Homo sapiens: one gene and its partners. The protein of the gene in region 3 purifies or fractionates together with the protein of the main gene of each other region. This does not show direct contact. Each region holds a gene or a part of one and is shown on either strand. Other genes may lie near its edges. The genes, in order: NTRK2, SLC22A17 and LMBRD2.

Region 1 (3,651 bases), on a different chromosome or scaffold from region 3:
GTAAACTGAGGGCTTTGGATTTGATGCTCAGACAAGTTTCTCAAGGCTCTGAAGTTCCCTGAAGCCTCGGTCACGGAGATAAGGAAGTGTATACATCAGCTGTGAAGGAAGGGCATGATACAAGGTGCTCGGGGTCTGGCAGTGTGTGAATCTGAAGACCTTTGGTGTCAGAGTGTTATGTGGAAATGTTTTCAGTGTCTGCTCTGAACTCCCTCAAACCATGTCTTTTTAAATGTGAGCTGCTAACAAGGCTAGTGGCATGTTAGTACTGGTCTGATGAGTCCAAGGTCACAGGGTCAGTGTTCAGATGGGTCACTTAGAATCGGAACCTCAGAAAGAGAAAGGGCTTTAGAAATGATCTGCTTCAGCCTCTTCTTTGCAAAAATCAAGGGCAGTGAAGAAAGTTGCCGAAGGCCGACTCATTAACAGCATTGTGGGAACTAGAAGCTCCTTCTCCTAGCATCCAAATGAATGCTGGGGGCCTTTGCTTTAGGGTGCCTCCCCTCCGTTCTGTGTTCTCAAACAGACCGCCTAATTCTGGCTCATCATTTTATTAGGTTGGTGCGAAAGTAACTGTGGTTTTTGCCATTACTTTTGCACCAACCTAATAGAACCACCATAAATGGGGAGACAAGTTTAACATGGCTAAGTCTGTGCAAACTCATCTCTGTGAGAGACCAAGTAATTGAAAAGTGCATGAGCTACTGATCTGAAAGCAATCATCTTATCTTCATATAGGAAGAAATATATTTTCTGTTTAGCTTACTGTGTGTGAGTGTGTGTGTGTGTGTGTGTGTTAAATTTGAAGTGTTCCTCTTCTTTAGGCAATTCATACACAAAAAATTTGAGCTTCAGAGAAAAGCCTTCATGAGTTGGCAGCAATGAGGTATGCTAACCTTGGGCCTGCTGGGCCATCTTTGCAGATTGGCATTAGAAGAGGGGCAGAGCAGACAGAGTGAAATGAAACCTGTTGCCCCTGGAGTCTTTGCCACAGTCGGGGGTGCTTATGTAAGTGGAGAAACCCGCAGCCCTTTCGATGAGGTCTGTGTTAGCTGCCCTGAAAGACCTGTGGCCAGAGAGTACTTATTATTCCCCGACTTCTTTCTTCCCCCTGACTTCTCAATGCCTCAAGATTGATGACTAGTCTCAGTGGCTGAGCCAGTGAGCAAACTTCAGGATTATTGGCTCCCATCCAAAATTCATCCAGCTACCATTTTATGTGTTGTTCGTGTTCTGCTCTGAGACCTTTCCAGGAAAAGCACCCTTCTGAGACATATTTTTGGTTGCATGAAGATTTGCTCCCATGGGACGTGAAGGGCCCTTTACAGACATCTGCTTATTTAGGTTTACAGCCTCACTCTGAAGAAGGTGGGGAGGTTTTGGCAGCCTCTGAGGGGCTGTGAGGTTTATTAGTTTGCCTGGGCCCCTTGGTAAAGCAGAGCATAATTTAGGGGTAGGATCCTATCTAATGTCTCATTTAGGGCTCTGTCTACTCCAACCTTGGTGCCCAAATTTGACCTCGAGAGCCAAGGCAATTCTAGGAGAGGTCTAGAGATTTGAATTCATGTTCACAGATTAAACTTCATGCAGTGGGAAGGAGGTGGGCTGGTGCTTCATCCTCTGTCTTCCCCACCCCTATCCTCTTCTCCTGTTCAGCTCCTGAGCAGTCTGATATATATTGTGAAGAGATAAATGATTTGGTTGCCTTTGGTAATATGGCATCTTCTTGTACAAAATAAAACTGTTAATAATCACACACCATTTAGAGTTCCTTTTTTTATGTCAAATAAGGACAAATTGCTACTTAGCATCCCATCCTTTCCTGTAATCTTCATATCCCAAGAATTGTCTACACACACACACATAGACACACACCATAATGTTGTATGTGTGTACCGTGTTTTCATCAATACATAAATCTGTGTATAAAACTCTGCCATGTGTAATTTGTTCAACTTAATTATCTTGAGTTGTAAAATTTTCTGAATAATTGAGAATGTGCTTCCCTAAACCACTATTTTAATTTTGTTTTTATCATTCTGGATGTCCCTTGGCCAGGATCTGGTTGGGCTGTCTTCTTTGAGAGAAGTACTTGAGCATTAGTGCATTGACCCTGTTAGCCGACCTGGTCACTCAGAGACCCACTGTGTCTATCTTCTGATTCTTTGATATCTTCTCAACATAAACGAACAATGTAAACAAAATTGAAAGGTATCGGAATTTTGGTTTCAACCTCTGCAATATAGTGCAATTTAAAAAGAAAGGATCTTCTCAACGCTAATCTTTGTAACAAGAGTTGTTTCTACTTCATGTACCCCAGAGTCCCTTGCTGTGAGGTGGCAGAGGGGCCTATGCCTGAATTGTCTGACTCTTGCTCACTGTGTGGCAAGTGACCTCTCTTTTCTGGGCTTGGCTTATTCCTCTGTGTGATGCATGTGTAGGGGTGGAGGGTGCTGGGCAAGAGAGCTTGACATCATAGCCCCTAGATTCCCTGGTAAGGTGTGACAAAAAAACACACAACTATGGTGAAACAAAACAAAACAAAACAAGTGTCTTTCTCCAAAGAACAAAACAAAACCCCAAACCAGAACACTCTTTTTAGTTTACTCCCAATTTTACTTCAAAACCCTGCTGCTACCACCCAAACTCAAAGAATGTTATAGATGATATTGCTCCTTGGTTATTTCTTGTGTGCGTCTGGTGCTATGGCTTGAATGTTTGTATTCTGCCAAAATTCATGTGTTGAAACTCAGTCACCAGGGTAGTGGTGTTGAGAGGTGGGAGTTGATTAGGACATAAAGGCAAAATGGGATTGGTGCCCTTATAAAAGAGACTCCAGAGAGCTTGTTTGTCCTTCCTGCCATGTGAGGACACACATAGAAGGTGCCATTTATGAGGAATGGGCCCTCACCAGATATGAAACCTCCCAGAACCTTGATCTTAGACTTCTCAGCCTCTAAAACTGTGAGCAATACATTTCTGTTGTTATAAATTACCCAGTCTAAGATATTTTATTTTAGCAGCCCACATGGACTAAGGTACATGGGTTTGGCCTTTCTCTTTGCAACTCTTCAGCCTCTTTCTGTTTCTGGTGGTGTTTCTTATCCCCTTCTCCTCTGTTCCCAAATCACAGACATATATATACAAACAATCATTTGGCTGTAAACCCCCTTTAATGGATTGTAAAGAAATCTTGACTTGTGTACTTTTTTCTGGTGGACGACCTGTGGGCAGACCATCATTGTTTCAACTGAACCTGGCTTGGTAAGGTTAACACAGTGGGAAAGGCGACAAAGTATAGGAACGTGGTATAACTGAAAGGAGCGCTGGTTAGGGATCTAGGATTTTGGATACCCACTCTCTGACAGTATCAGGGTCTGGGATTTTGGTTGAGCCACTTGACCTCACCAGCCTGACTGATTTCATCTTGAACCTGGAGGCTGTGACACTCATGCATGCTACTCCTTGAAAGACTCTGTGGTTCTGAATCAGTCAGCCATGAGCACTAGTGTTTCCTTTTCTGTTCAAGAATTCACCATTGCCTTCACTCCAGGGGCAAACAAGAGCCTGCTTCAGTTCTTTTGGTGGCTAAACAGCAGAAACCTGACCAGTAGGTTTTCTTTAAGTCCAGCTCTGCCGTTGAGGCTGGAT
Region 2 (4,112 bases), on a different chromosome or scaffold from region 3:
GAATGGTCAGGCTGGGCGCAGTGGCTCACACCTGTAATCCCAGCACTTTGGGAGGCCGAGGCTGGCAGATCACGAGGTCAGGAGTTCAAGACCAGCCTGACAAATATGGTGAAACCCCATCCTTACTAAAAATACAAAAATTAGCCAGGTGTGGTGGCAGGTGCCTGTAGTCTCAGCTACTCGGGAGGCTGAGGCAGGAGAATCGCTTGAACCTGGGAGGCAGAGGTTGCAGTGAGCTGAGATTATGCCACTGCACTCCAGCCTGGGCAACAGAGCGAGACTCCATCTCAAAAAGAAAGAAAAAAGAAAAAAAAGAAAGAAAAAAGAAAGATCAGTGGGGACATAGACATGGGTGTATTAATCCATAAGGTAGGACTATTGATCAGTGGGATGAATCTATTAATCCATGGGAATAATCAGTAAGGATAAGGTCACAGACCAGGGGAGATGAGACTATTGGTAAGTGATTATGGTCACTAACTATGAGTTAGTGAAGACATGGTTACTGATTCTTGGAGGCTGGGCTATTGATCTTTGGGGATAAGACCATTGATCTATGGAGATGAAGATAGGGAGCCTCTGGTCATTGCAAAAGGGGCACCAATCCCTGGGAGTTAGGCTATTGATCTAATGGGGTGGGGCATTTTTCCATGAGGATGGGCTTATTGGTTAATGTGCTGAAGGCTACAGATTTTAGAAGACCAAATTATTGATCTTTGGGGATGAAACCATGGTTCCATAGGAATGAGGCTACTGGTCTGTGGCAATGAGGCCACTGATGCATAGGGATGGGCTATTGACCTGTGGGTTTCGGATCATTGGCCCACAGAGGTGTGTGACTATTGGGCAGTGAGGATGGGTATTGATTTTAAGGAACTGGACTATTGAATGTTGGGATGGCTTTGATCCACAGAAGTTGAGTTATTAATCCACTTGGATGGAACTGTGGATCAATGGGGCTGAGTCTAATCGGAAGTTTAGTGCAGTGAGAGCATCTGGTCAGTGGTGAAGGTGACCAGAATCAGAGATGAGATTTTTGATCTGTGGGAAGAGTTATTGGTTGCTGGGATTGGGTTGTTGATCTCTAGAGGTGAAGCTACCGACTCATGGAAACGGGGATTTCGGTGAGAGGATCTCAAAGCCCTGAGGATCCATGAGGGTATGACTGCTAATCTATGGGCTATTCCCCTACAGAGCGTTGGGTCATTTGGTGGCAGGCATGGGACTGTGGGTTACTGGGTCTGAGGATATTGTCTTTGGAGATAGTTAGTTGACTTGTAGGGGAGGGGTCGCTGGTCAGAAATGGGGTAATTTGTTTGTGAAGTTGAACTATTGATCAGTGGGAATGGAGCTGTTGGTGTTTAGGAATTAACATATTGATCTTCAGGAATGAGGTCACTGAGATGGAGCGAACAGTCCATGTGGGCTGTTAGTGGGGATGAGACTATTCTCTTTGGAGATGAGGCCATTGATTCACGGATAGGGGGCCACTAATTAGTGGGAATGGGACTAATAGTCCATAGAGGTCGAGTCATTCCCTTGCGCGGAAGAGGTAGGGAAGGGGTATTTCTTGATGGAGAGTGAAGTTGAGACATGGATAGACCATTGAATAGAAGTCCAGAGAAGACTGCAGAGTCCAGCGAATCGTCTTCGACCTCCTGTAAACGCCCGCTGCTTGGGTTAGCTTCCCTAGCACCCCCTCCTTTCTACCAGCCCTGCCCCCACGACAGCCCTCACCTGTCTGCGGGGTAACCCAGGAACAGGTAGCCGGAGGCAAAGCCCAAGATGAAGAGGATCTGCTCCAGGATCACCTGCCAGCCCAGGTCACACACCAGATCCCACTGGGGATGTGAGAAGGGTGCAGCGGGCGTGAGGCCCCGCCCTCGCCGCTCTCTGCCCGCCCCCAGACCCGCGGCCCGCCTGGCCGCCTCACCTGGCCGATGGCGTTGGTGGTGAGCACAGGAAGGCCATTATAGTCCCAATCCTTGAGGCAATGGTTGAAGTCCGGCGGGGCGAAGCCGCTGCACGAGGGGTCGGTACTGGTGGCGACACGGCTGGCGGCGCTGGCTGCTAGGGCAGCGCTGGCGACGCTGACGCCGCTGGCATTGGGAGGCTGCTCCCAGCCAGAGGCATTAGGGGGGAAGGCCCCGTAGTGGCAATGCAGCGGGGGCGCCAGCGTGAAGATGGGGTCCGAGGCCATGCCCAGAGCCACGAAGAGCACCGGCAGGCAGCAGAGGCCGAGCTGCAGCTGCTGGCCGCCGCCCAGCGCCCCCACCTGGGCGAGCAGCGCCTCAAAGCTGAGGGGGCCTGGGGGCACGGCCAGCGACAGGCTGCTGCCCAGTCCGTCGCCGCCCGCGTCTCCCTCCCCCTCCCGCTCGCGCTCCCGCTCACCCTGCAGCTGCTCCGTGGGCACCGCATCTCCGAGGGTCCCGACCTGCTGTTGGGGGGCAGGGGGTGGCAGGAGAAGGGTGAAGCGGAGGAAACCGCAGAGCAAGGGCAGGGGGCAGGTGGGAGGGAGGGCTAGGAAGGCAGTCAGGGGCGAGGGATGCGCAGGAGGAAAATGCCAGACGCTCCGCGGGGGCGGGGGTGCTGGGAGAGGATGGCGTCGCCACCTGGGGCTCGGGCACTTACTCCGTTGGAGGTGGGGGTGATCTCTACAGTGTTGTCGATTTTGCCGCCGCCCCCGCCATTGGGCTCGGGGGTCCCGGTGGCCACCCGGGGAGCCAGCTTGCCGACCGCAGGGGCCCTGCCGGCCCGCGCCGAAAGGATGCGCTGTCCTCTGGCTCAGTTGCGCGCCGGCTGCCCGGACACAGACAGCTCGAAGAGATCCCGCTCTGCAGCTCTGCAGCCGCGGGCGCCTCCTTGGTCTCTGCGATCTCTGCGCTGCTTTCCCCTCCCCTTCCTCTAGACTCTCCTCCCCTTCCCACGTCAGCAGAACCTTCGGTCCAGACTCTTCGTCAGAGAGAGGAAGGGGGGCCAGGGCCCAGGGGAGGGAGGGAAGGGGGGCTCTGTCGTCTCTTTCCTGGGTCTGCGGGCCATTGCGGTAAAAAAGAAAAAAAGCTGAAGGATAGTAGCTAGTCCAGGCAGATGCCAGAGATTCTTCCTCTGCTTCCAATCATTTGCCATCATTCATTCATTCATTCATTCACCCATTCACTAATCAGTAAAATTTAAGTGTCCACTACGTTCCAGGACTTGCACTAGACTTTAAGGATAACAGGGTGGACAAGTTCCACTTTGGAGACCTTTACTCCAGGGAGACAGACATGTAAACTGGCTATTACAGTACAACTTATGCATATGGAAGACTGTCTTGGCCCTGTATCAGCCCTAGCTTCAGTCCTCTACAAGGAGACCACTTTCTTGGGTTTCATCACTCCCATCCTGTTTGAATCTCCATTTCTCAACAGCATTTGGCACTGTTGACCCCTCTTCCTCTAAACACTCTCTTCCTTTGCTGCTGAGTCTCTCTTGCTCCCCTTTTCTCCATTGCAGAAATCGTCTTCCAGCTCATGGCATTGGTGCTGAGCATGGGCAGGCCATTATCCTCCCGGTTCTTGAGGCAATGATTGAAGTCCAGCGGGGTGACGCAACTGCAGGAGGGGTCTGTATTGGTAGTGATGAGGCTGTGGTGCTGGCTTCTAGGGCCATTCCCGTCTGTATCATTTAGACACCATGGTTCAGTGTCTGGAATCCTCACAGACTTAGTCCTAGGCCCTCCTCTCATCTCACACTGTCTCCACTTTGGGATCTTACCTATGCCCACAGCTTCAATCACCACCCATACAAACAATACAAACCTGACGCCCAGACTGACATCTCCAGCTTCCACCTCTGTTCTGAGCTCCAGACCTATGAAGCCACCTCTTATTTGACCTTCACCTTGGATGACTCACAGGGACCTCAAACTCAATATGTTCAAGACGAAATTTTTGCTTTTCCCCCATAACTTGGTTGGCTTCCACTGCTTTTTTCTGCAGCGAATGGCACCCTCAACATCGCATTGTGGCCAAATGCTCAGGCAACAGCCTTTAGAGCTTTCTCTTCCTTATCCATGTTGAATTCTTTACAAAATTCTGCCCATTTTACTTCCTATATATTCTCAGACATCC
Region 3 (3,651 bases):
TTTTTTTTCTTTCTGTTTTTTTTGGAGGCAGAATCTTGCTCTGTCACCCAGGCTGGAGTGTGGTGGCATGAACATGGCTCACTGCAGCCTCAACTTCCCGGGCTCAAGAAATCCTCTCACCTTCACCTTAGCCTCCCAAGTAGCTGGGCCTACAGCCATGCACCACCATCCCCTGCTAATTTTTGTATTTTTTGTAGAGTCAGGATTTTGCCATGTTGCCCAGGCTGGTCTGGAACTCTTGCACTCAAGTGATCGTCCTGCTTCAGGAGGATCCATCACACTTGGCCCTGGGAATACTTTGATTATATTTATGCCAGTAAAGCTACATAACTTATAGGCCTCATGTGAAGAGTTGCCAAGGGAATGGGAAAACAGGCTCACATTAGAAGGTAGATTCGAAACTTTTGGATCTAGGATGTTAAACAGTTTGAAGTGTTGGGTTTTTTTCATAATCTTAGTGGGTGATTAAAAAATTCTCTATTACTGTATTTCAATTTTAGAGCATCAATAAATGTTAGCTAGAAATGAAGGCCAGGCTGGGCGTGGTGGCTCACACCTGTAATCCCAGCTCTTTGGGAGGCGAAGGCGAATGGATCATGAGATCAGGAGTTTGAGACCAGCCTGGCAAACATGGTGAAACCCCATCTTACTAAAAATACAAAAATTAGCCGGGCGTGGTGGCACATGCCTGTAATCCCAGCTACTCAGTTGGCTGAGGCAGGAGAATCACTTGAACCCAGGAGGTGGAGGTTGCAGTGAGCCAAGATCGCGCCACTGCACTCCAGCCTGGGTGACAGGGCGAGACTCCATCTCAAAAAAACAAAAGAAAAAGAAATGAAGGATAATGCCTGTAATTGTTAAGTGCTAAAGTCTGTTTGTTTTAAACAAACTGCTTTGTTTTTGTTTTTTTCCAGATTGCCTGCTTCCTTTCCATCTTCTTCCTAAGTATCTGTGTTTATTCTACTGTGTTCAGGATTCGTGTATTTAACTATTATTATTTGGCCTCACATCACCAGACTGATGCTTATAGCCTTCTTTTCAGTGGCATGTAAGTAGGATTATGTTTAGAAACAAGAGAAATGTCATCATTGAGTGTATTCTTATGGATCTTTTATTTTTTGTTGTTTACAGGTGTTCCACTAACATCTATATTTCTATCAGCTAATTGATTAGTTTCAAATATTAAATTGATGTTTGTTGATTGCCAGCTACTTCCTGCTTGAGGTTTAAGGTTAAAATAGGTGTGCTAGGTTAGGCTAGAAGGCAGAAGAAGCATACTTAGTGAGCCCGGATTTACCAACCAGAGATTAGCAAGCAGTAGAAACAATGGACAGTTTAGAGACTAAGTCAGACCTAGATGGTGTTCTAAGATTCAGCGGTCTCTCACTGAGTTGAGGAGGACTGAGAAAACCAACAAGAACAATTTTTCCTGAGGAATTCAGAGAGGATTTAGAGAGATGTCTTCAAGTTGGGCAAGATTGTACAATCTATTACCTGTTCTTATTGTTAAATGAGTCCTATTAGGTATTTATAAAGGATGAACTTAGATAATTTTATAGAGGAGTTGACATCCAAAGTATTTTTAAGCATCTTTTTTGTTGTTTTCCAAATAATTATGGACTCATGGGAAGTTGCAAATGTAGCACAAAAAGTCCTATGTAACCTTCACGCTACCCCCAGTGATATCAAAACCAGGAAATGAGAGTAAAACATTACTATTAACTACAAACTACAGACTTTATTTAGTTCTCACCATTTTTTATCCTTCATTCGTGTGTGTGTGTGTGTGTGTAGATTCCTGTAGCCACCAACACAATCAGGATTCAGAACAGTTCTATCACCACAAAAGAATTATCTCATATTATTTTTTTTTAATTCATACCCACACTTTATTCTCCCCAGCCCCAATTATCCAAGTGTGTGGGTTTGTAAGGCATTCTTTTTATTTGGACAGAATTGAACAACTTTATATCTGTGCTTGTCAGAATGACATATGTTGATACAACTTCAGTTCTTTTATGTACTGAATACAATTCACCTTGAGGATGTTACTGTCCTTGTCATGCTGTGAGATGGATTTTACGGATGGCTTAGTTGTAGGAGATGATACAAAGGCACTCCACAACTTGTGGGGATAAAGCAATGGCAGAAACCATAAAAGCAAGGAGCTTGAGGCTGTAGTCACGTAGGCATTGATGTGGCAATTTTCAGAATATCTCCCAAGTAAGTGAGGGCAGGTCACATTAAGAATTCAATATATATATAAAGCAAATAGATGAAAATTTTAGCTATAATTATCTGAAATGTTTTTAATACATCTCAGTATACTATAAAATGTATTTTGCTGCTTTACTTTTTATATACATATTTTTAAATGTTTGTTGCAGGCTATTTTGCCGTTTGACACCTCCTTTATGTCTTAATTTCTTGGGTTTGACCCATATGGATTCATCTATCTCTCACAAGAATACTCAACCAACTGCTTATACATCTGTAAGTACGGTCAGAAAATAGAATTCCTTAGGTTCACTATCTATATGAGGTGCTGTTATTGTGAAATTTCTTTTAATGCCAGCAGAAAAGTTCTATAGTGTTATTGGTAAAATTTTCTCTTAAAGATTGTATACGTATTACTATTGACTAGATAAAAGTGATTTTCCTTCTTTTATGATAAAAATGTTTTTTTTGGTTCATATATGTTGTCTAGCTGACCAGTATCAAAAGAACTGACCTATACTAATATTAACTTTATATTTGTAGTCAATGTATGTGATAATTTTGAGTAATAATTATATTAATTTTCTTTAAGAGAAAACCTCAATAAAAAGCAGATTTTAAAAAATAAGTCCATTTACTGCTTTTTTTCTACTTTTTAAAAAGTTCAAATGGATTGATATAACTGGTTATAGGCAAATTTTCTAATGATGGAAAGGAATGGAAATTATAGAGCTATTCCAATTTAACTTACTTTTTTCTTGCTCTTCAGATTATGGGTTCCATGAAAGTTTTATCCTTTATTGCAGATGGATTCTATATATATTATCCTATGTTGGTGGTAATTCTCTGCATTGCTACTTATTTTAGGTAAGAAACTTAACATTGTTTTTTCTTTTGCTCTTAAATCTGGATATCCTTTCTCTTTAAAGCTCTTTTAAATATTTACTGATTGAGTTTCAGTTTGTTTCATTGTAGCTTTGGAGAAGCTGGGGATAGTTTGAAGGGACTACTTGAGTGATCAGGTGCGAGTCTCCCTCTAAAAAATTTAAAGAAAAAAGAGGTAGAGTTATTATTCTATTATAATAAATAATACTATTTTAACATTATTCTATTTAGGCTAAAAAATGATAGGATTAATTACAGAATGTTAACTCTAAGTCCTGGCCTTTGACACTGACAGCTATCGTAGCCTGCAAAACACCCTTATGTCCAGCTTTTTTCTAATGACATAAATTAGCCTTAGAGCTTTCCAATAATTATTGCTGGGTGTCTAAATGCTTCAGACCATGGCCAGCACAAAGGGTCAGGTGAGGACCGATTGTAATCAAGCTGTACATTAAGATTAGAGGAGAAATTTTCTCCTGTGTCATAAAGTACATGGCATGCTGTTTTCATGGAATTAGAATGAATGGTAGAATCTAGGCAGGAGTGAGA

Evidence for each region.
Region 1: the proteins of LMBRD2 (region 3) and NTRK2 fractionate together in Homo sapiens (co-fractionation; one large-scale study listed by BioGRID). This does not show direct contact.
Region 2: the proteins of LMBRD2 (region 3) and SLC22A17 fractionate together in Homo sapiens (co-fractionation; one large-scale study listed by BioGRID). This does not show direct contact.

What each region holds. Positions count from the first base shown.
Region 1 is NC_000009.12:84,676,186-84,679,836, forward strand, and holds part of NTRK2 (BDNF/NT-3 growth factors receptor isoform a precursor), read left to right. Parts: intron 1-3,651. UniProt on the Homo sapiens protein: Receptor tyrosine kinase involved in the development and the maturation of the central and the peripheral nervous systems through regulation of neuron survival, proliferation, migration, differentiation, and synapse formation and plasticity.
Region 2 is NC_000014.9:23,350,015-23,354,126, forward strand, and holds the start of SLC22A17 (solute carrier family 22 member 17), read right to left. Parts: upstream 2,874-4,112; 5' UTR 2,728-2,873; coding exon 2,632-2,727; intron 2,438-2,631; coding exon 1,934-2,437; intron 1,842-1,933; coding exon 1,738-1,841; intron 1-1,737. UniProt on the Homo sapiens protein: Cell surface receptor for LCN2 (24p3) that plays a key role in iron homeostasis and transport.
Region 3 is NC_000005.10:36,113,857-36,117,507, reverse strand, and holds part of LMBRD2 (G-protein coupled receptor-associated protein LMBRD2), read left to right. Parts: intron 1-914; coding exon 915-1,048; intron 1,049-2,387; coding exon 2,388-2,493; intron 2,494-2,986; coding exon 2,987-3,084; intron 3,085-3,651. UniProt on the Homo sapiens protein: Recruited to ligand-activated beta-2 adrenergic receptor/ADRB2, it negatively regulates the adrenergic receptor signaling pathway. May also regulate other G-protein coupled receptors including type-1 angiotensin II receptor/AGTR1.